Linked DNA regions of Homo sapiens: all the other regions are linked to region 1. The links come from fine-mapping of genetic effects on gene expression. A gene starts in region 1. Each other region holds a variant in brackets. All regions are shown on one strand. Distances are between the middles of the regions.

Region 1 (8,000 bases):
CTCATCACACCCCCAGTGATCATAACACACATCATCAGTGGTCACATGGCCAAACACAGAAGGGATTTGGCAGAGGGTGAGTGGTTCTGTCCCTCAGACTGGAGTATCCACATGGAAAAAGATTCTGCACCCTCACCTAGAGGACCCTGGGACCTAACAGGGGACAGAGGCAGTCTGTGGCTCCACCTGGGGTTAAGGAAGCTGTTCAGAGCATAATATGAGGTACTCCTGTGGCTGGGCTGGAGACACACAGTTGGAGTGCACAGACCCCAGTCACGGGTGCATGATGGGGGGAAGGCCAGACTCCTACGATGAAATCTCATCTCAGCCTTAGCTTCATGAGTGCTCTGGATTTCAGCTTCCCCATCTTTAAATGAGGCTAAAAACAGCATCTAGCAGGGACCTCTTGAGAGTTAACATATGTTAGTGCTTAGAACAGTGTCCGGCACATGACACATCTTAAATCAAGTTCAAATGTGCACTTAAAAAAAAATTGCTGGGCATGGTACCTCAGGCCTGTAATTCCAGCACTTTGGGAGGCCAAGGCAGGTGGCTCACCAGAGGTCAGGAGTTCCAGACCAGCCCGGCCAACATGGCAAAACCCCATCTCTACTAAAAATACAAAAATTAGCCGAGCGTGGAGGCGTATGCCTGTAATCCCAGCTACTCGGGAGGCTGAGGCAGGAGAATCGCTTGAACCAAGGAGGTGGAGGTTGCAGTGGGCCAAGATCACGCTACTGCACTCCAGCCTGAGCAACAGAGCAGGACTCTGTCTCAAAAAAAAAAAAAAAAAAAAAATTGGTGAAAGGTCAAGTACAGCAAGCACTTGCTGCCCCATAACTCCATGAAAGGCCTTCCACCCTGCCCTGTACCAGAGAGGAAGCCCAGGTGGCTTGGCATCATCTTCAGGGACCCCACCAGGCAGGAGTCAGAAAACACCCTCCTGAGAAGTGGGCTCTGACTGATACCTTCCTCATACTCAAGTATGCTTTTAAGGCCGGAATCCCCACAGAAAGAACGCAGACTAAGACCAGAGAAGCCCCAGCCTCTTGCAAGCACCAGCCAGGCAGATCCCTGCAGCACTCTCAGGAAGGACACATGGTGAATGTGTGAAGAGGCACACACGGGCATACAAGGAACACATCAGGCCCAGAGGCCTGCCCTCCCTGCCCAGCCAAAGCCAGGAAGCCAGCTGCAGCTCCCGGGTTCTGCAGGGCAACTCAAGACGCCTCCAGGGGTAGCTGCAATGTTCTCATCTGGAGAGTCATGGAATCGAAAGAATAAGTTTGCTCCCTCTACCAGATCCACCCCACCCATGCCCTACTCCGACCTCAGTGTGAGGTCTCCTGTGACGCCCTCACTGCTTCACAGGTACAAAAAGATGGCCACCTCCACCCACCTCTGGGACCCCACACTCCAGGGTATTCAACACACAGGAGTGTGACAAGTGACTTACACCTGGCCTCTGTTCCACATCAGGCACTCCTAAAAGGAGGGGCTTGTTCTTGTCACTTGGATTCCCTAGGGATGGGCAGGGGGCAAGCACCCACAGGCACTTTCTCAGTTGCTGCTGGCCAGTTGGCAGGCTATGTGAAAAGGCTGGCAAGGAAAAAGGAGTCGGGGACGTCAGTCACCTCTATCACCCAGGCAGGAGATGCTGGGCCTGGAACCAGAGGCACCCCAAAGAAGCCAGGCATAATATGGCCTCACCTGAGCCCGGTGACCTCATCTGCAAAACTGGGACTCAAGAATCAGAAAACGGTGACCTTCTACCTCTCTACACGTACATATATGTTTTCTAAAGAAGTTAATCACAAGAATCCACAAACCCATTGGTTCTGACCTCCAAGAGCCTATATGATACCCTCCTCCACAGGTAGCCCTTTTCCTGGCTTCTGTTCTTACCAAGGCCACCCCACAACTAGTCATCCCGCTGCCCAGAGAGCAGCCAAAAGCAGTGAGCAACTAGCTCTACATGGGGAGACCAGAGAAGCATCACTGAATCTGTCCAGGTTGAGCACCGGTCAGGGCCTTGGCCACCAGGCAGGCACTAGGGAGGAGGCAGACATTCCACATAGATGACACAAGCGCAGAGCCAAGAGGTGCGGTGTATCTGGGCTGGGAGCCTGGCTAGGGCACAGGAGAGGGCCACACACCCCGTGCTCCCACACCCAGGTCATCAGAGAAGATGGCCCTGGCACTTCTGCCTTCATGGGACCTTTCCTCCATTAAGAAATATTAAGAGTCATGCTTTTTCACTGTATTAGTATAAAGATGACTGTATTAATATACATACGAAAACATTTTATTTGACCTAAAAGTTCATTTTTTTTCTGCTGACTTTAAAAAAAAATAAAATAACATTCGAAGGCTACTAAAAGTACCGTGGGCAAGTGATACCAGGATTCCTGTGCCTGATGGATACATCGGCCCTGCATTTAGGGAGTTTGATTTTTTGGTGCAGTTCAAGGGGAGGTACACCGAAATAGGTAGAAAAGGGTCTCCTGGTTGCCACGGTTCTGATTCCCCACCACAGACTTAAGAACACACTAGCTCCGAGGGGAGTTCCAAAGCACGGACTCATTCATCACATACACGCAGCACGGCTAAGGGCCCCGCACAGTGGCGAGGTCTCTGCTCCCGGGACGCTCGCGCCGGCCACACAACGCTAGGCTGACTCCTGGTGCCTCCTCTAGGCCCGGTGGGACCTGAGGACTTCCTTAGCGCAACGTCTCACTGAATGACAGCCACAACCACCGCTGTCCAGGCGAGGAGTTTCCAGGACTGAGAGGCTGGCACTAGGCCACTGCTGGGAGGACGTCTGTGAAACCAGGTGCCCCTGAGAGCCACTGTCCCCAGCCCGACTCCGACGCTGGACTGGCGAGAGGGTGCGCCCGTGGCGTAGCTCCTGGCCGCCGCCGCTCCCGGGAAGGGCCCAGAGGCAACATCCTGGACAGCAGAGCTGCACGAAGTCCGAGGCGCCGCGAGCCCAGGTAAGCTCCAGCAGGCGTCCGCAGAGAGTGCCAGGCGGCCCGCGAGCCAGGCCCCGCCCGCCCCTGCCCCAGGCGCGGCCCCTGCAGGAGGGCGCCGCGGGTGAAAGGAGGTCCCGGGGCGACCCCGGCCCCGCTCGCCGCCCAGCCCCCACACCGCCCCCATCGCGCGGCGCACCTGGCCGCAGCGGCTCGGTGACAGTGAGCACGAGCAGGAAGAGCAGCAGGAAGGCGCCGCTGTCTGCCTTGGGCACCATTTATCCTCCGTTCATCGTCCCCGGGGCGGCTGGAAGGCCGGACCAGGCCGGACTGAGGGTCAGGGGACCGTGCCAAGCGGAGGGTCAGGCGGAGCTGAACCTGGGCGAGGCGCGGAGAGGCGGCGGGAAAGAGCTTCGGCTGGGCCGCGGGCTGGCGCACACTCTCGGCTGCAACCTCAGGCACCGACTCCAGCTGCGCGCAAGATGGCGGCCGTCCTGCTCGGCTCCGCGCCGCGCCGCCCCGCCCCGCCTCCCGCCCGCGACGCAGGCGCGGGCCAATGACCGTCAAGATGGGGGGCGGGGCCAGAGCCAAAGCCCTCCGAAGAGGGTGAGGCCTAAGGTCGCGACGGCGGAGGGCGGGGACCTAAGGGCGGGGACTGAGGGGCGGGCTCTAAGGGAAGGGCGGGACCATACGGAGTGAGGCGTGCCATTGGTTAAGCAGAGAGGCAGGGCCGGGGCCGGGGCCTGAGCGGCGGGGCCACCGAAGGGAGTAGGGTCTCTGGACGCCGGTTAGGGACGGCGGGCGCGGGACGGCAAGGATGGACATCGAAAGGCGCGGGGCATGGGGCGGGGCGCCGAGGGGTCGCGCGGGTGGGGAGCGGAGAGAACGAAGTGGGAACCTGGCTGGGACTCCAAGGGTCTTCACACCTGCAAGCTCAGGTCCCGTGAGCAGCCCAAAAGTGCGCCCCAAAGGGGTCTTTTTAAGGCCGAACCGCTGTGGAGGAGGGAGGGCCTGCCGGTTCTGAGGGTGGGGAAAGAGGAACAGGAATGGCCTAAGAGAGTGTCAGGCAAAGAGAGACCGGGAAGGCCAGGTCCTGGAGACTGCAGCGAAGCCGGCTCCCTGGAGGACCTGCCTACACAATGGCTAGGGGAAGGCCACATGTGCAGGAAAGAAAGCTAGGCAGAGAGGAGGCTCAGCGCCCCTGCGAACAGTGCTCCAAGTGCCACTTCTCCCGTCATCACCAACAGGGTGAACCTTGGAGGGCAGTGTCGGCGAAGAGTCCAACTCTGTAAAATATTTGAAGACATTTCTTCTGAGCCAATATGTGACCAATAGCCTGGGACACAGCCCCAGGAGATCCTGACAAGTGCCCAAGGGGGTAGGGCCACAGCTTGGTTTTATACATTTTAGGGAGACAAGACATCAATCAGCACATGTAAGATATACATTGGTTCAGTCGGAAAAGGCGGGACAACTTGAAAGTGGGGGGTGGAGGGGGGCTTCTAGGTCATGCGGATTGGCAGTTGGTTCAAAGAGTTTATCTAAAGACCTGGAATCAATAAAAGGGACTGTCTACATTAAGGGGTTGTGGAGACCAAGTTTCTTAGGCAAATGAAGCCTCCAGGTATCAGGCTTCACAGAGAAAAGACTGTTAATGTTTCTTATTAAAAAGTGCCAGACTCTGCCGGGTGTGGTGGCTCACGCCTGTCATCCCAGCACTTTGGGAGGCCAAGGCGGGCGGATCACCTGAGGTCAGGAGTTCAAGATCAGCCTGGCCAACATGGTGAAACCACATCTCTACTAAAAATACAAAAGTTACCCAGGCGTGGTGGCACACGCCTGTAATCCCAGCTACTCAGGAGGCTGATGGCAGGAGAATCGCTTGAACCGGGGAGGCAGAGGTTGCAGTGAGCCAAGATCATGCCACTGCACTCCAGCCTGGGCAACAGAGTAAGACTCTGTCTCAAAAAAAAAAAAAAAAAAAAGGAAAAAAAAAAGGAAAAATAAATAAAAGGTGCCAGACTCTAGTTAATTCTCTCAGGAGAAAAGACCTTGAAAGGGATAGGGATTCTCTACAGAATGTAGATTTTCCCCACAAAAAACAGCTTTGCAGAGCGACTTCAAAATATGTGAAAGAAACCTGTTTTGCAGTAAAATATGTGTTTCCTTCCGGGCCTGCTGTCATGCTGGTATCTTACTGCCACAGAGTCTGTTGTCAGTCTTCAAGTCTCTGTGTCGATGTTACACTGCTTAGCTGTGCCTGAAACCTGAAGGGAGGAGGGATAATGAGGCCTGACTCCCACTTCCTATCACGGCCTGAAATAGTTTTTCAGGTTAAGTTTGGAATGCCCTTGGTGGAGAGGAGGGGTCCATTCAGATGGCTGGGGGGTTAGAGTTTTATTTTTGGTTTCCAGGAGACAGTAGTTGGGGTGTCCCCAGCGGGAAGGAGAAGGAGGCTGTCTGGAAGGAGGAGAACCAAGAATGCACAAAGGCCTGGCAGTGGGCAGTCAGCGTTAGGGAAGAAGGTGAAGGAGCAGAGAAAAGGGGGAAGGGCCACGGCAGGTGGGGACCCAACCCAACATGAGTGACAACCAGCCCGCCCTACCAAGTCATCCTGAGGGGCCCAGGGTTCCACTTGGCTCCTGTGAGAAAGGGGTGCTCACTCCCTCTAGGTGGATGAGGCCAAAGTCAAATCCAAGGCTAGGATAGTCATGTGACTCCTACTCCCCTAGGGCATAGCCCGGAACAAGTGCTGGACACAGAGCCTGGCACAGCAGAGGGGCTCCACTGCCAGAAAAAACAATGGCCACACTCTCCAGTGCTGCCCCTGCTGCTTGTACTGTCCTCAGAGCAGCCACCAGTGCTCAGGGTGGCATCCAGTCCCCGCCTTTAGCCCCCAGCCCCAGATCTGCCCTGGGAGCCCAGCCAGGGGCAGAAAAAAAACTAGTTCATTGAGTGCCAGGGAGCCCTGCCCAAGGACATGGCGTGCAAGATGTTCCACCAACTCTCCTCAGCCATTAAATACTGCCACGACCTGGACATCATGCACCAGAACCTCAAGTGTTAGAACCTTCTCCTCGACAAGGACTTCAACATCAAGCTGTTCTACTTCAGGTTCTCCAAGCTCTGCCTGCGGGATGACAGTGGCCAACAGAGATTAAGCAAGAACTTCTGCGGGTTGGTGGCATATGCAGCCCCCGAGCTGCTGCAGGGCATCCCCTACCAGCCCATGGTGTATGACATCTGGAGCCTGGGCATGATCCTCTACATCATGGTCTGCAGCTCCATGCCTTACGACTCCAACATCAGGAAGATGCTGCGTATCCAGAAGGAGCACCGCGTGGACTTCCCACACTCCAAGAACCTGACAGACGAGTGCAAGGACCTCATCTACTGCATGCTGCAGCCCGACGTCAGCCAGCGGCTGCACATCCATGACACCCTCAGCCAATGCTGGGTGCAGCCCAAGGCACAGGGACTGCCCTCTATGGTCTTCAACAAGGAGGGGGAAAGCTCCCAGGGAACTGAACTCTTGTGGACCCCTGAACCTGGCTCTGCCAAGAGGTCTGCCACCAAGCTGGAGCCTGGGGAACAGACACAGCCCGAGGGACAGCCTGAGACAAAACCTGAGGGGTTGGCAATGCAAATGTCCAGGCAGTCGGACATCCTAGGCTTCCCCAGCAAGCCGTCGACCAGGGAGAAAGAGGAAGGGCCCCCCAGCAGCCTCCAGAGATGCGCACCTAGTGAGCCGTTTGTGGCCCAGTGTGCCAGCGGCGAATGAGATGGAGCTCACGCCTTCAGGCCCAAGCTCTGAAGAAGTCAAGGCACAAACCAGAGAAGGAAGACGGTCCCGGATGAGCCGCTGTTTTCATCAATTTCTTCTCTCTCCCCTTGAACTTCATAACCGACATTGCTAAAGGAGCAATAAATCACTATATTAATGCAGATGCCAAAGTGAATGTCTTTGCCTCAACTGACTAGTCCTGGGCTCCCCTCCACTGGTTTCCCACTCAGATTGTGCAATGATTCCTCGTTTGCTTGGGAAAACACATCCCAACGTGCCCAGTCCAGACCATGACCTCAGGCCCAGGCTGGGGCTGGGGCTTGGGCTGGGGCTGGGAGAGACCTGGAGGGGCAGGGGCCAGAGCTGAAAGGTGAGTGAGGAAGCCGCTGCCTCAGAAGGGACGCCCCCAAGTGCGGTGCTGGGGTCGGGAAAGGGCAGGGAGAGGACAGGACCAAGAAGCATGCCGAGGTACCCCTGTAGAGGAGCGCAGGCTTTATCTGCAGTTGGGACTGAGGGTCTGGGCAGACCTCTCCAGCCCCACAAGGCTGCCAGTGGGGGTTGTGGGAGGCTGCAGAGGGCAGGTGGCCAGCCTCTCAGCCACTCCTGAGCTCCCTACCCTGCTGGGCAACTCGTTCATTGTGCTCTGTCCATCAGAGGCCCCCTGTGTCCAGCCAGCACCCAGCTTTCAACAGTGCCGGGGTCGCCGCACCCTGTGGTCATTCTCTAGCCCGGGAGAAATAGGAGGCTCTGCTGGATGGCCCAGCCACACTCCAGCCTGAGCATGTCCCACAGTCTTGTGTGGTCTTGACCACATCTTGTTGTCCCCGTCCCAGCCTGTCCCAAGGGACGACACCCCTGCATTAGAAGTTGACACTGGCAAGTAGGATACGACAGGCAACCACAAAGGACAAGCGCTTTCAGAATTACCTCTCCCATGGCCTCTAAGTGGATGGGGCCAAAGTCAAACCCAAGGCTAGGACTGTCATGCGACTCCCACTCCCCCAGGGCGGGGCCTGAAGCAGGTGCTGGACACAGAGAATGTCAGAGCAGAGGAGCTCCACTGCCAGCAACATCGATGATCACTGTCCACAGTCTACCTATGGTCACTTCTCTACCTCGGGAAGACCCCAACCTCAGTCCCCTTGGAGAAGTAGGGTCTAGTGAGAGCCTGGACTGGCCCTCCTTGCGCTCTTCCCCAAGTCCACCTGCCTCCTCATGTTCTCACAGCCCCCTTCCACGTGGTTTAA
Region 2 (8,000 bases), 85 kb before region 1:
CCACAGTAACGGGCACACCAGCCTTGACTGACTCGGGACCGGCAATCACAGCAGGCCCAGACTCACACACAGGGGGACAGTCACGCACTTGCACCTGATGCCCAGTCAGTCTACTGGGGCAGACGACTACAGACAGAAACCTGCAAAGGCCACAGAGTGCAGGGTGCAGACTGTCTCTTGGCCACTCTTGCACCACTGGCACATGCTCTGGTGGTCCCAGGACACAGACTGATCTGACACAGCCTCACATGACACTCTGTCCTCACCATACTTGAGGTCCTGGGAGTCATAGCACCAGGCACCTATAGAGACAGTGGGCAGGAGGCTGAGCTGAGAGGCCAGTCATCTGGGCCCTCTCCAAGCCCCATCCCATCAGCTGGGGTCCAAGAATGAAGTAGGTCAGGGGTTTAGGCCAGGGGAGGCCAGTGAAGAACCTTCTCTCCTGTCACCCCTACCTCAGTATTTTCTCTCCCCAGTCCCTCCCCACTCCCAGTGGCAAGACCTAAGGGGTGGTGGAGCATGGCAAGAGGGTAGATTGGAGGCCAGACAGGAAGAGTCCTGGTGCTCACTCTCAGAGTCTGCGCCACACCAGCTGCACCGCAAGGCGAGCATGATGCCAGGGGCGTGCGTGGCTCAGTGGCAGCCGCAGCTAGGAAGGACTAGAAAGTGGCTAGACCACGCAGCCAGGATGCTGGCCTGGCTACTACATATTTATTCATTAGCTAGCTGGGCTAGGGGCGTGGCTACTGAGGAGAGGATGGGAGGGGTCGGTGCCCAGGCAGGGCCACCAGGAAGAGCGCGAGCGCTCCAAACTCACCCAGGTGTGCTCTGGTCCCAGGGCTGCACTGATGCCAGCAACAATCGCTGAGGTTAATCCTGCAGGGGAGGGGTGACCTATTATTATCCCCACTTACAGTCCAGGAAACAGAGGCTGGGGACCAGAATGACACACCAAAGCCACCAGCAAGAAAGGTCAAATAGTGAGGGCACCTTGGACCCCAGTGCCCATGACTTTCGGGGCAAGGATGGGAGGAAGGTGTAGGATGTCTCTTGCCCCACTGTGGGCCCGGAACTGCCACCCCATCCCAAGACCACAGCCTCCCTCCTACCCAGGCCCCCCTGCGGATCCAGGCCAAGACGGAGCCCTGCAGGAGGTCAGAGGAGGGGACTTCTTTGCACCCTGCGCCTCTTTCCAATCGCCAGAGGGCAGGGCCCTACCCACATTGGGGATGGGAAGACAGCCCCTACCCAGAGGCAGGGCTCGGGGCTCTGTCCAGAGTGCTGACAGTGACCTGTGTGCTCGGGACTCAACACCACCACTCCACTCCTGCCCCAGCAGATGGGATAAAAAATGAGGGGCCACATCCTCGAGGCTCCCATCCCTGCCAAGGGACTTACCAGTTCCTTTCCTAACCCTGACTCCTCTCGTGTCCGGCCGCAGGACGTCCCCCCAGTATACACATCTGGAGTGCCCCCAGAGCAGGGCATGCAATCACACTTCCTGGGCCCACTACCCTCTGAGACCTAGAGATGGCACTGCTGGACATGAGTGAAGAGGCCCCAGAGGACCTAGGCTACTTTGTAACATTAGGTGGCTTGGACTGGAGGGAGGGGCTGTTTCCAGCCACCCGGATGATGAGGGGAGCTTAGAGGAAATGGCGCTGACGGCCAGGTTCCAAGCCCTGCCCTACCACCCCGTCCCATGCTAGCTCCCAGATGGTGTCAAGCAGCCTTGCCTTTATGTGGATCCTGTGCACGTCAGCAACACCTGCCAAGGCAGCAGCCGATGCCCCAAGCAGGGCTGGGTGCTGCAGGATAGCTGTAGGCAGCTCAGGGCTGCTGCTCTCCCTGCACACTCCACCTAGGGGCTCCAGGCTCAGCTCTGCCTGGTCCTCAGGGGGTTTGATGGACGCCTGCAAGGGCTGCAAACCCTAGGTGCATTCTGCTGAAAGGTGGGTACCCAGCCTCTTCCACCTTAGCCTGTGGCAGCCGTGGGGGCCACACCAAGGACTAACCATGCCTCTTCCGGAACACAAGTTTATTTGGCATTTGGATGAAATGATTCTCACAGCATCTTAAGAAAAGTTAGTGTCAACCCAACCAAAAACTAAAAACCCTTAATGAAAACATAAAAAAACAGGCATCAAGACAATGTACAGTATCAAATCCCACCTCCGCATGGCAGGTCAGAGGGCACCTGGGCTCTGAGAAACCGTGGCAAGCTGGTCCTAGAGGAGGAGGACCCCTGGAGCACAAGGTTCAGCAAGGGTGACCCCGGGACTTGCTGGTCAGACTGGGGACTGCAGCAGGCCTTGCAAAGGGGGCATTCTGGATGGTGGTGCAAGAACAGATGAGCGAGTCCAGCTCTCCTCATGCTCCCAAGGGCCTCCTGGAGCCACAGTGGCAGCGGTGTTCCAGGCAGCCCTGCCATGTGGACCTTCTGCCTGGCCCAACGTGCCAGTGGCCTGAGTGCTTGTGGAGGCCCATGGGGAAGGGGCCACCCAGCAACCCCGGCCAGCCCAAGGCCCACCCTCTGCAGCCTGCATGGTCCACTTTACCCCGTTTCCTCACTGCCCCCTACGTGTCTGACCGGCCCCTAATGTTCCTCTGGTCCCCAAAGGAAGCGTCCCAGTCCCACACATCTCGTGCCAGCCACCCTGTCCCGCACACACAGTTCTGAGGCCTGGCAGGAATCCTCTGAGCTCTCAGGCTCAGGCCCGTGGGGGACTCTGCTGCGTGGTCCTCGGGCCCTCACTGGCCACCTGGCACCCATAATGCACATGCCTGCTGCTCTGGAACCTGGCTGCCCTGCCCCAGTGCATGTGGGATCCACGGCATGCTTCCTGCTTCGTCCTCTGCAGCCAGTAGGGGACTCCTGTGGCCAGGACTTCCTTGTTAAGTAGCAGCCCTTCTCCAAGGGGAGCACAAGCCTGCCCGCACACAGCCTCCAGCATCATGCTCCAGCAGGCCAAGCTCAGGGACAGGCAATTCAGTAACAAAACTCACAGCTCTGGACAGTTCTGGCACAAAGGTCAAGTCTGTCTGTGGGCAACTCAAGATTCTCATTCCACATGGGATGGAAAAAATGGGTCTCCAGCCACAGTGTGAGAATGTGTCAAGAAGTGGACTGTGCATGGAGTCCATCCCCGAGCAGCACCACAGAACTGCATGCTTCAGACAGGCCTCCCAGGTGCTGCCCCGCTGGTCTGGAAAGACTGAGCGAGACAGCACTGCCTCAGCACAGCCCAGGATGCATCGATGACCCTGGAAGAGTGGGCCCCCAGTGACCCGTGAAGTTCCATGTGCCACCCTCACCTGCAGACGCTTGGCCACATACACACACAGAGACACAAACATACAAAGGAAAGATCCAGACATTCAACGTAGAAAAGATATGGATGTGCTAAAAATCGCACAGAACCCGCTTAATCTCCAAACCTCAGAAATGTTAAAGGCCCTGTGTCAGGCAACAAAACCACTGCCCAGGAGCAGGCAACAGGGTCCGTCAGGCAAAAGGGTGCCAGGAAGGGCCCCCAGCCCCTGCGCTGCTGAGGAGGGGCCGGGAGGTGTGCATGCGGCCGCTGGGCACTGAGCTGCAGTAGTGGCGGTGATGTAAGGAGTGGACTTTAAGGAGATAGATGCAGCCCAGGATGGTGGTTTCAGCCACCCCTCCTGCAATGAAGCAACCCTTTATGGCACAAATGGGGCCGGGGGCAGGCCCAGGGGCAATTCAACAGGAGGCAAGAGCCCAGGGCTCCAGAGTGGAGAGACAGGAGGCAGCTCAGTCCCCAGACCCCAGCAGAGCATCTGGGGCCTCGGCCCCACTCCAGAGCTTCTTCCTGAGGGAGCCATGCACAGCAATGCTGGGAGAGGGACTGATGGGGTGGGGTCAGGCCTCCTGCCACAGAGCTGGGCTGCAGAGCCCAGATGGAAAGACACAGTGAAGAGCTCAACCTCCTTCCAAGCTCTCCTTCTCAGGGCTTCAGGTTCCAGAGCCCCAGGGGAGCTCCCAGCCAGGGGCAGGGTCACCTTGATATTCACAACTGGGCTTGTGGGGGCCATCTTCAGTGCAACCGTTGTGACAAAGTCAAGAGGCTGCCTCCCTGAAGCAGACCCACTGC[C/T]TACGCCACACTGACGGTCCAGAGGCCCCCTCCTGAGGGCGGCCAGCAAGGGGCACTGTGGCAGCTCCCACTGTGCCTGTCCCAGACTGGGTCAGCAGGTCTCTCTGGACAGCACACTGCACCAAGTAAGCCCACCAAAAACGCATCAGGTGTGGCCATGGCCCACAGTACCTTCTTCATTCCCTGCCTCTAACATGTGCGGTCTGAATGAATTTTGTCACTCTTCTGCCATTTATAAAGGAGAAGACAGTGATCCAAAGCTATGCATGTTTCTGAAGCCCTCAAGGAAGCTCGGTGCAGGCCATCACTTCTTTTGGCAGAAGGCGGGCTGTGGTCTCTATGTACACACGCGAGCCCGCCAGTGACGTGCGGCAGTGCGTGGCGTCCAGGCTGGGACAGGGGCCTTTCAAGTCTCCCCAGGGACCGGTGTTTTCTACAACAGACAGGTGCTCCCAGACCGTTGGGGTACAGGCCAGGCCGTCTACACCACAGTATTGAGGGAGCTGCGGCTGTGGCGGCCACCCCCTGGCAGTGCCTCTGCAGCTGGGGTGCTCCCGCTCTGGGCAGGGTCAGGGGGCACGAGCAGGGCGCTGCTGCTGTCGGCAGAGTCTTCCAGGTCTGCCAGAGAGGCCCCCGCAGTGGGCAGAGGCTGCTCCAGGCGCCGGAGTAATGCACCTTCACTCCCACCATCCCCAGGGGCTGGCAGGCTGACCTCCACAGGCTCAAAAGCATCATCGTCTGCAGGAAGAGACAGAGGGGTGTCAGAGGCAGGTACGGGCCTGGCACAGGGGATGCAGGGGAGCTAGGCAAAACCAGGAGACACTCCTCCTGCCTGAAGGCCCCCCTGAAGCTGGGTGGTGAGCAGGACCTGGGTGGCTCCCCCGGGCCTCAGATTTTGAAGGAGGAGCCTGCCCCACATGACACCTGTTGTACCTACTGCCCCCTGTGGCTGGGAACCTGGTATATGCAAGGTGCAGGGCCCATCTCACAAAGGCAGACACGGGCCTGTCCCACCATCGGTGTGAGGTAGGGGAGACACACTGACCAGCAGTCACTAGAACAGAGGGGCCCAAAGGGAAACCGTCTCAGACTCAGTAAGGTGAAGACCCGGCTCAGCAAGAAGGCAGGGGCATTTGTCATCAGGGAGGCACTGGGCCCAGGTGGGTGGAAGAACATTCAGGGCTGCAGCTGGAATGTGGCAACCGGAGTGTGGGCAACAGGGCTGCAGTGAGCGGCCTGGAAAACCACACAGGTGTTTGCAGGAAGCTCTGATCCAAGGCAGGCTGTGTGGTAGGCAGTCGACTCGCTTTGTTTTGCCCGATCTTTATTACTTGCTTTTTTTTTCTTTTAAGAGACAGGATCTTAAAAGATTGCACACTGGTGTGCAGTGACGTGACCATGGCTCATGACAGCCTTGAATTCTGGGCTCAGGTGATCCTCCATTCTCAGCCTGCCCAGTAACTGGGACTACAGCTGTGCCCACTATGCACGGCTAGTTCTGAATTTTTTGTGGAGAAGGAGGTCTCACAGGCTGGTCTCGAACCAACCTGGGCAACATAGTGAGACCCCTCCTCCCGCCTCAGCCTCCCAGAGTGCTGGATTACAGGTGTGAGCCACTGCGCCTGGGCTGCCTGCTTGTCATTACCATAGGCTGTCTCTGAAAGCTAACAGCACAAGGCCCCGGTGATGCACCTCCCTCCCGGCCAGCCCCTCACAGCCCCCACCCTGCTCTGCAGCCTGGCCCACACAGGTGTCTGGGATCTGCTGCCACCCACCACCATCCCTTGCAGGAAGCTGGTCCTACCCTGGAAGACTGTGACAATCTGTGTCATGAGGGCAGGGGTCAAATGCAAGTCTTTTCTGCACCCCCAGATCATGCAAGAGCTGTGGCAGCTGACTAAACAAACGAACAGGACTGAGACCTTTAGGCACAGCAGCCCCAGCCTCACAATGCCCATTCTGCCGAGATGGGCAGGCATGCAAGGAGCCAGCCACTTTGGGGTGGCACTGCCTACCAAATATACTACAGGTTTGTGTGTGTTAGGGGGCCTAATGCACAGGGAGATGGGATGGGACACCTGCACTGCTCAACAGAGACAGAGACAGGCCAGGGGTCAGGGGCCTGCCACTCCTTAGCTACACAGCCTTGAGGAATGGCGCCCACTCTCAGATGGGTGGTAGGCTCCAACTATGGGCCAGTAGCACAGAAGCCACGCTTTCCTCCCACCTCACAGAGCTGCCTCCTGACACGACAGGAGGGGCTGTCACCATGGTGTCTCTAGCTCATGTGTCTACAGACAAGTGATTGGCTCCTGGGTCTGGGCCAGCCCTGTCTTCACAACCACCACTGTCGGGCTCCCCAGGTCTCTAGAGCTGGGCTGAGGGCCCTGAGGGCTGCCCAGATGACAGGTGCTCACAGAAGGCAGGGAGGTAGGAGGGAGGGGTCCCAGGCCTTCTCAGAGCTCTCTGCACAGATTGCCAAGGGCGGCCAGGCAGGGAGATCAGGACCCCTTCTGCACGGGCAGCCCCAGGAGAAGCCTTAAAGGAAAAACCAAAGACAAAGCCGGAAAGAAGTGAGGTCCCTAGGCCTCTGCAGCTGGGCAAGAGTGCTGGGCTCAGCCCCACGTGCCAGGTTACTTGACAAGGTGTTCCCTCTCCCTGGGGAGTCAGGCACCTGCAGGGTCATAGAACACACTGTCCGGGTGGATGGAGGCCTCGTAGGGCGGCGGAGGGTCGTCGGGCTGGCCGATGTCCGGGTACTTGTATGCCGTGTAGGGAGGTGGAGGGTCGTGGAAATGGAAAGTCCCACCCTCTCCGTCGTCAGAAAGATGCAGCGGCGTGAGGCCCGTGCCAAACCCGTCTGGGCCGTAATCAAAGCCAGGGATCCTGCGGCCGAGGTTGAAGTGGTGCACTGGGCCATCAAAAGTGTGCAACGGGAACAGAGACAAGTCACTGGGGGCAGGCTGCCTGGCTCCTGAGCCCCCCACCCCCAGGCTGGGCCTGCCGTCCCTGAGTGCACACACCTGTGCCCCGCTGCCTACCCCTCGGCCACATTCGGCATCCCCATGAGACCCCTGGTGTGCTCCGTGGCATGTCTCACCCTCACCACACCAACCTGTCCCTCTGGGCTGACACTTCTGTCAGACCCAGCCTCTGGCTGACCACACCCCTCCAGCTGGAAGGGTGATCCGGGCCTCTGACCCTCAGAGGCCTCCGAGTTCTGCCCACCCTGTGGCTCAATGGGAATAAGGAGGGTCTTGGCAAGAACTTTCCTGGCCCACAGGTGAGGACACAGACCCCACAACATGTGGCCTTCAAACCTGCCTCTGCCCCTCTCTGTCCAGGGCTGGGGAGCTCATGGAGACATGGGGTGACCTGGGGTGGGGATGGGGACCAGGGTTGTGGCCCTCAGAGGGCACTTACAGTTTGCTCCAATCAGGGACTCGATGCGCTCCCGGCGCCGCTGGCGCAGCCGGTGGACCATGAAGAGCAGCAGTGACAGGATGAGGAAGGAGGAGATGCAGCTGACGACCAGGCGCATCCCGCTGGCCATGGAGTCAAACAGACTGTTGCCATCTGAGGGGGAGGGGAGGAAATGGCCGCTCTGAGAAGGGGGCCACCCTCGTGCTACGCTGGGGATGCTGTCGTCCTCCTGCCCAGGCGGGCTGTGTGGACAAGGCACACAGTGTCTCCCTGCACCCAACCATCTTTAGGATACATGTGAAATAAGGCCGCTCAAAATCAAGAACATGGTGACAGCACAGAAGCAGAAGAGCGAATCCCAGGTCAGGAGGAGCATCTCACCATGGCCCCAGGCTGCTGTGTGCCAACACCCCTCTGACCATCACCGGAGCAAACTAGGATTTCCTGTCCTAGGAC
Region 3 (8,000 bases), 20 kb after region 1:
CATCAAGGGAGCTGGCACAGATCTGGACCTACAGAACGTGTGTGACCAAGGCAGTGTTCAATGGAAGCCCACTGGGGCCAAGGAAAGACTCAGGATCCTGCCGCACAGGGCCCCAGATGGTTCCACTCACTGAGCTCTGCCAAGCTCAAAGAGATGGGAGAGATCATGCCTGCCCCCAGGCAGCCCTGTCCAACCTGGCCCATGCGGCCCTGCTGACCCGCCTGCTCACCTGGGCATTGAGGGCGGCTGCCTGCTGGAGCTGGCACCTGCTCAGGGCTTGGCTGAAGGGGTCCCTAAGGAAGCGCGTGTTCTTATGTACCACCTGCCGGGGCTTCTTAAACAGCTGCTCCTCGTCAGGGACACCTGGCAGACGAAGCAAAGGTAGCAGCAGGTGTCAGAAGGGCAGCAGCCTAAGGAGCATGAGGAGCTCGCTTCTCGGCCAAGTCACTCCCAGATGAACAAAAGCATTGAGCAGAACGCAGGCCCCAGTGCCGCTGGAGAGGGTCTCACTCACTGCTGACCTCACACAGACCTGTCCACCCTTAGACAGACCAGTACCCATCAGAAGCCCAAACTGCAAGGGGGCACGGCCATACACACCTGGAAGGCTGCTCCAAACACAGCCAGACACACACAGCTCTACCCAACACCTCCCCATTTGGCTGCGAGGCCCGCCACTTACCCTCTGGATAGTACATGAGGGAATTCTTGGCCTTGTACTTCCAGGTCTCCACACTGGCCTGGCTGCTCTCGATGGCCTGGTGCTCTGCTGACGGGAGTTCGAGATTATCTTTCTGCCTCTGCAATCACATGGGGAAAAGTGATGGTCAGAGATGCCCCTGGGCATTGTACCCATGGCCCTGGGGCTCCCCAACCACCACAGAGGGTGCCTACGCCTATGTGACACCCCAGACCCCAGAGACACCTTCTCAAACTCTTCCTCAGCCTGGTAGAGCCAAGCGTGGCGTGCCCGGCTTCTCTCCTTGGCCACCTCCATGATCTCCTGGAAGGAGGCATTGTCCTCACTCGTGTAGCGGCTCAGGAAGACATCTAGGCTGGGCAGCGGCTCCTTCTCCTCCTCCTCTCCAGCCTCTCCTGCTTAGGGGTTGCGGGAGGAGGAACACAGCACCCTTTGCAGTCAGGAAAGAGGAGGACACCCAGGCCCAGGAATCATAGCCCCCAACATGCAGGGCTGGAATCCTCTCCCCTGGTCCTGGCTTCTGCCCATGAAAGCCCACACTGCCAAGGACTCCCCACGGGGGCAGAATCCACCCACCCTGACTGCCCAGAGAGCCCTCAGGTGGTACCCTACAGATTCAGGGCCAGCTCTGCTCATGTGCTGGATGCCAAGGGAATTACGTGGTCTGATTCAGACTGGAGAAAGCAATACAGGTGTTAGAGCAAGAGCTCGTGATCACAGGCAGGCTCCTCCCCCACCAAAGTGGTGCCAGGCCTGTGGGTGCCAGGCCTCCAAATCCCTGGGGCTCTCCCTCACTCCCTAGGATTTCCTTACCTTACCCACTCTTCTCTTCCTGGTACCTGTACTACAGGTGGGTGGTCATCGCCTAATCATCCTGACCTGAGAGCGAGCCCCAATTCCAGGGATCTCATATGACTTAGTCCTCTGGATGGGGCCTCACAGGTGCTAAGCCACAACCCCAAACACCCCCCCCTCCGACCAACCCTGCCACCATGGAAAGTGGTACTCCCACTGAGGTGGTGCCCTGGTGCTGCGTGTGGTGGTGCAAACTTCGGTGGGGCCACCTGGAGAGCTCTGCCTTCAAGTCTAGTGACAGTCCTGACCACCTGCTACACGTGAGGCTATGCACAAGGCACAGTGGCTACAAGCTCAAGACCCACGGGATGAGGACAGGGGTCAGAAACTCTATTCATCTCAGAGAGATAAGAAGTGAAACCCTGACCATCTCTGAGACCTGCAGAAGTGACTGCCTTTCTGAGCCTCAGTTTCCTCACCTGTAAACATGATGATGGTTCCTACCACTTAGGTTCTGAAAAGGATTCCTATATTTACTGGCATGTAGGTGTACAGGTATTGAAAATCTGCAAACTGGCTAGGCATGATGGCTCACACTTGTAATCCTAGCACTTCGGGAGGCCAAGGTGGGAGGATCACTTGAGCTCAGAAGTTTAAAACCAGCCTGGGCAACATAATGAAACCTCATCTCTATAGGAAAAAAAAAAAAAAGGAGAAGAAAAAAATCTACAAATTGCCCTGTGATGCACAAGCTACATTTCAACAGATAATCAAGCTTCAAGGACAACAAGGACTGTGTTAATGGCCGAAAAAGCTGGATTGTAAAGCAAAAAGTATCATGTTTGCATGTTTGTGCAAACACACAACACATCTGTGCTACTCCAGCACAGTGGAGTCTACAAACTGATAAGAAAGAGTGTCTCGTTTGTCTATACATGCACTGACATTCTACTACTGATGAAAAGAGGGCCTGACAACGCAGAAGTCCCATGGCGTGCAGAACACTTGCATTCAACAGGACTCGGAGTGCCCTTTCCTAAACCGACTCCCCCATCAAGTCACGATGTTACCATATAGAGCTGTGTGTCCCAGCAAACATGCTGAAGATGACAACTCTTTCATCTGTTCCATGTGTATCTGTGCAAGGCCCACAACACCACATGTGCTGTTCCCAACACGGAGCATACAGATGAAAGCAAAACAAAGCTTCTGCTCTTGTGCAAGGGATGCCAATTAGGGAAAGAGACCATAAACAGAAATGCCTTTAAAACGTTATGTCTTGGCCAGGCGCGGTGGCTCACACCTGTAATACCAGCACTTTGGGGGGCCGAGGCAGACAGATCACCTGAGGTCAGGAGTTCAAGACTAGCCGGGACAACATGGCAAAACCTCGTCTCTACTACAAAATACAAAAATTAGCCAGGAGTGGTGGCAGGCGCCTGTAATCCCAGCTATTTGGGAGGCTAAGGCAGGGAGAATTGCTTGAACCTGGGAGGTGGAGGTTGCAGTGAGCCGGGATCACACCATTTTACTCCAGCCTGGGTGACAGAGCGAGACTCTGTGTCAAAAAATTAAAAATAAAATGAAATTAAATAAAATAAAATGTCTTGTGATGAAAAACCAAAGCCAGGCTGGAAGCCACAGAGCACCAGTGGTGTTGTGACTTCACACTGGCAGGTCAAGAAAAGTTTCTCTGAACAGGTAACACCTATGCAGAGATCTACAGGAAGAAACACAGTGAGCCATGCAGTTATCTGGGAAGTGACCAACATGAAGGAAACAAATGGAGAGGCCCTGAGGCATCTTCAGGATAGTAACAAAAGGGGCCTTCCAACATCCATGAAGCCCACAGGGCAGGGCTGGAACACAGCAGAAAAGCCAGCAAGAGCTGGTGAGAGTCCCATTTCACAGAGGCGAGCCATGTGTGGGAGCTGGACCCAGATGTTCTACCACCTAGACCAATGTCCTTTGACTTCACAGGCTGCTATTTACGCAAGACCCCTCAGGAACAAGATGTGGCCTGCAGCCCTCTGGACCACCCCCTCAGGGCCTCACAGGCTAAGATTCCCAGGCAATCCTGACCATGTGACTTAAAGAGGGCACCCTCACTCACCATCCTCCAGGCCTCGGCCGCGGGGCCTGGGCTTGTTGCCCACCACTCCAGTGCCTGCATGCACCTCAGGGGTTTCAAATGTGGCTGGAGTCACATCTAGGGGAAGAGAGGGGGATAAGAATTAGAGTGAGCCTGAAGCGACAGTTCAGCAGGCTTTCCCCTCTCCGCCACCCACAGGGTCCTCATACAGGGTGGCGGGGGCTCCCGGGACATCTTGCCCAAGGCAGAGCCAAACTTGATGGCAATCTGGCGCATCCGTTCCAAGTCTCCATTCTCCTCGGCTTCCAGGTACTCCTTCTGTGCCTGGAGCTTCTCCACATCAGGAAAGAAATCCCTTTGGATGACCGTCTGGAGGCCCTGCAAGGAGAGATCAGAATGAAAGTCAGAGGCCAGGCGCGGTGGCTCACACCTGTAATCCCAACACTTTGGGAGGCCAAGGGAGGTGGATCATGAGGTCAGAAGTTCAAGACCAGCCTGGCCAACATGGTGAAACCCAGTCTCTACTAGAAATACAAAAATTAGCCGGGCGTGGTGGCAGGCACCTGTAATTCCAGCTACGTGGGAGGCTGAAGCAGAAGAATCGCTTAAACTCGGGAGGCGGAGGTTGCAGTGAGCCAAGATCACACCCCTGCACTCCAGCCTGGGCGACAGAGCGAGACCGTCTCAAAAAAAAAAAAAAAAAAGAAAAAAGAAAGTCGGAGCTGCAGTCTGGGTGCTCCTGCCTCACAGGTCCACTGCTGTACATGCTAAGGAACTTGCTGAACCTCCTTCAAATTCTACTTCCCCAATGACTGGGGCTGGATTGAGGG[A/G]GCTTGAGGGCACTTTCTAGTGGGGTTGAGCATCCCATATGGTAGCCATGCTGCAACCTCTAACATTACTAAACACTCTTCTGAAGTCCGTGAAACCCTTCTCTCTCGCCCTTGCTAACTGGTCATTCTCATTCTCCATTGCTGGCTCCCCACAAGCCAGACCAATGTGGGTGTTGTCACTTTCATTCCACACATGACTTTCTATTTCCAATCTAAACCTTTCTCCTGGCGGGGCATGGTAGCTCACGCCTGTAATCCCAGCACTTTGAGAGGCCAAGGCGGGCGGATCACCTGAGGTCAGGAGTTCGAGACCAGCCTGGCCAACATGGTGAAACCCCACCACTACTAAAAATACAAAAATTAGCCGGGCGTGGTGGCGGGCACCTGTAGTCACAGCTACTCGGCAGGCTGAGGCAGGAGAATGGCTTGAACCCAGGAGGCAGAGGTTGGTTACAGTAAGCCGAGATCGCGCCACTGCACTCCAGCCTGGACGACGAGCGAGACTCCGTCTCAAAAAATAAAATAAAAATAAACCTTTTTCCTGAGTAACTTCAGCCAGTCACTACCACAAGTTGAGATTCCCAAGTCTGCACCTCCAGCCAGACCTTGCTCCCGAGCTGCATATCTGGGCACCCAACCGTCCGTTAAAGCCATCCATCTACATATCCCAAAAGGTGTCCCGAATTAAACAGGTCTAAAACCAAACTGACTTCCGCCAATCCCCGTTTCAGCTCCTCCTTCTGTGTGCGTGTGGTGGGGCGACGCAGGTCCACTCACTCGAGATGCTGTCACAACTGCGGTCTCTTTCCAGGAACCCCAGCATTCACACTTGCTGCCACCGCTCTTTAGAAAGCCCTCTTTGCCACCATCCTTCCAGTTTGTCAAACTCCTACTCACACTTTAACAGAAAATCTTCTTTCCCTGACCCCCGTCCCATACAAAGAGAGCCGCTCTCTCTTTTCCCTGACAACACTACTACAGCCTCTTCCACCACAGACGTCTTCCTCTGCCCTGTTTACTTGACTCGTGGGACCGTCCACACCCGGCTCCTCCACTTCCACGAGGAGACGGAGTGTCAACACCCGAGAGAGGGAACCTGAGAGGAGCTTGAAGCAGAGGATGGGCCCAGAAGTCGCCGGCGTCCGCACCGAGGTCGTACCTCGATATACTCTTCCTCGTCCAGGACCCGCTGCTTGCTCGTCGCAGCCCCAGCCTCTCCCGCCTCGCGCTTCCTCGGGGGCCTGGACGCGGCGGGAAGCAACAAGGACGACGCTGATGCGCCCGGCGTCTCCATCGCTATCCCAGGAAAAAGCTCGGGCCCAGCAGGCGCGTCACAGGGTGGAGGGGGCGGGACTGCACCATTTGCGCAGGCGCCTCCAATAGTTGGCCAATGGAAAAGCTGTGGCTCTAGAAAGCCAGCCCGCGCTCCGTTCTGACGTCACTATAAATGCTAGACTTTATTGGAAATGTAGTCCTTGTCCTGCCCCGCGCTATTCATGCTTGTCAATGCTGTGAACACGAGGGGGTGCTGTGGAGGTGGCGGGGAGGATGCTATAGGGCGTGTTCTTCACGCGAGAAATTCTGGCTTTGCAGCGTCCAAAGGCCTTAGAATTCTAATTTCCCACAAATAAGAACTATGTATGCTTCGAGATTATTCTACAAAAATACAAACCAGGAAATTTACTTATATAGGAGTTTCAAGCTTTATGCAAGAAAAGGGCCTTAAAACAATTTTTTTTTTGAGACGGAGTTTCGGTCTTGTTGCCCAGGCTGGAGTGCAATGGCATGATCTCGGCTCACCGGAGTTCCCGGGTTCAAGGGATTCTCCTGCCTCAGCCTCCCGAGTAGCTGGGATTACAGGCATGGGCCACCACGCCCGGCTAATTTTGCATTTTTAGTAGAGACAGGGTTTCTCTATGTTGGTCAGGCTGGTCTCTGGATTACAGGCGTGAGCCACCGCACCCGGCCAAAACAATCTTTTTTTTTTTTTTATAGTTATCTAACAAAAGGTGAAAGAACAAGACAGTGGTTCGATTAAGAAATGTCTAAAGATTATTCTGTAATCCCAGAACTTTGAGAGGCCAAGACAGGCGGATCACCTGAGGTCAGGAGTTCTAGACCAGCCTGGCCAACAAGATGAAACCCCATCTCTACTAAAAACACACAAAAAAATTAGCTGGGCATGGTGGTGGACGCCTGTAATCCCAGCTACTCGGAAGGCTGAGGCTGGAGAATTGCTTGAACCCAGGAGGCGGAGGTTGCAGTGAGCTGAGATTGCACCATTGCACTCCAGCCTGGGTAACAAGAGCAAAACTCTGTCAAAAAAAAAAAAAAGATTATTGGGCCCCCAAATGCCAGAGTGGGCTTCCCAGAAGAGGGATCATTCTCATTCAAGACCAGGCACGGTGGCTCACGCCTGTAACCTCAGCACTTTGGGAGACCCAGGCAGGTGGATCACTTGAAGTCAGGAGATTGAGACCAGCCTGGCCAACATGGTGAAACCCCAACTCTACTAAAAAAAAAAAAAAATACAAAGTGGTGGTAGGTGCCTGTAGTCCCAGCTACTTGGGAGGCTGAGGCAGGAAAATCACTCAAACCCAGGAGGTGGAAACTGCAGTGAGCAGAGATTGTGCCACTGCACTACAGCCTGGGTGACAGAGTGAAACTCTGTCAAGAAAAAAAAAAATTAATATTCAAGTGAACCAGAAAATTGCCTCGGCATTTTTAAGGAATTTCTTCCCAAACGAAAGATGTGAATTGTGTTGGACAAATAAATTCCGCCCTGGAACAATTTAATACAATTTTGCTTTTGCAACATACAGGGATACCTTCATTCACTGAAGTGCAGCGTGCTGCTGCTGCCCTTGTAGAAGTGACAGTGCAATGGGGAAGACAGAGACACTTGTTAGATCATCACACAAACAGGTGTAAAATTGCAGCTGTGTCCGTGCAAGAAAAGAGTTTGTACTTGGGGAATCTTGACCTAGTTCGGGAGGTCAGAGAAGCTTCCCCAGGCAGAAAGTGATTGCAGATTCAAAAGACGAACAAACCGGCAACAGTCAGGTGGAAAGAGCATGTGCAAAGGCCTAGTGGTGGGAGGGAGCAAGGCAAGTTCTAAAGAAGTCCTTTGGAAATGCAGAGTGCAGTGAGGTGTGAGATGATGCCAGAGAGGCAGGGCCAGGCTGCACAGGGCCTTGTAGGGTATGGTGAGGTGGTTTGTCTTCATTCTGAATTGAAGGGGCAGGCCAGGCACAGTGGCTCATGCCTATAATCCCAGCACTTTGGAAGGCCTAGGCCGGCGGATAGTTTGAGGTCAGAAGTTTGAGACCAGCCTGGCCAACATGGCAAGACCTCATCTCTACAAAAAACTTTTCAAGTTAGTCGGGTGTGGTGGTGCCCACCTGTGGTCCTAGCTACTCAGAAGGCTGATGGGGGAGGATCGCTTGAGCCCAGGAGCTGGAGGCTATAGTGAGCCATGATTGCACCACTACACTCCAGCTTGGGTGATGGAGCGAGACCTTGTCTCAAACCAACCGACAAACAAAAAAGCAGAGCCAGTGTGGTGCAGGTGGACAAGATTAGA

Alleles and levels. Alleles are on the strand shown, and positions count from the first base shown. SD is a standard deviation of normalised expression in the study named. Not every link is listed here.
For the expression in atrial appendage of the gene that starts at base 3,453 in region 1, C is the low allele of the variant in region 2 and T is the other (moderate effect, 0.54 SD a copy in GTEx).

Evidence for each region.
Region 2: its variant is fine-mapped to the expression of DGCR2 in atrial appendage (GTEx, PIP above 0.99).
Region 3: its variant is fine-mapped to the expression of DGCR2 in atrial appendage (GTEx, PIP above 0.99).

What each region holds. Positions count from the first base shown.
Region 1 is chr22:19,118,960-19,126,959 of GRCh38, forward strand. It overlaps DGCR2 (DiGeorge syndrome critical region gene 2), which reads right to left and starts at 3,453. Exons shown (of 10, transcript NM_005137.3): 1 at 3,169-3,453. The coding sequence starts at 3,247. It also overlaps the pseudogene TSSK1A. RefSeq lists an enhancer at 2,812-3,313 and silencers at 3,098-3,217, 3,338-3,777.
Region 2 is chr22:19,034,263-19,042,262 of GRCh38, forward strand. It overlaps DGCR2 (DiGeorge syndrome critical region gene 2), which reads right to left. Exons shown (of 10, transcript NM_005137.3): 8 at 7,545-7,697; 9 at 6,796-7,032; 10 at 2,024-4,859. The coding sequence ends at 4,603. It also overlaps the pseudogene CA15P1. Among named protein-coding and RNA genes, the nearest start is that of FAM246C, 8.7 kb to the left of the region's middle. RefSeq lists a silencer at 1,757-1,926 and an enhancer at 2,410-3,030. The variant C/T (reference allele first, on the strand shown) is at 4,122.
Region 3 is chr22:19,138,930-19,146,929 of GRCh38, forward strand. It overlaps ESS2 (ess-2 spliceosome associated protein), which reads right to left and starts at 5,722. Exons shown (of 10, transcript NM_022719.3): 1 at 5,577-5,722; 2 at 3,797-3,965; 3 at 3,609-3,704; 4 at 926-1,095; 5 at 683-800; 6 at 230-363. The coding sequence starts at 5,711. RefSeq lists an enhancer at 4,791-5,297. The variant A/G (reference allele first, on the strand shown) is at 4,418.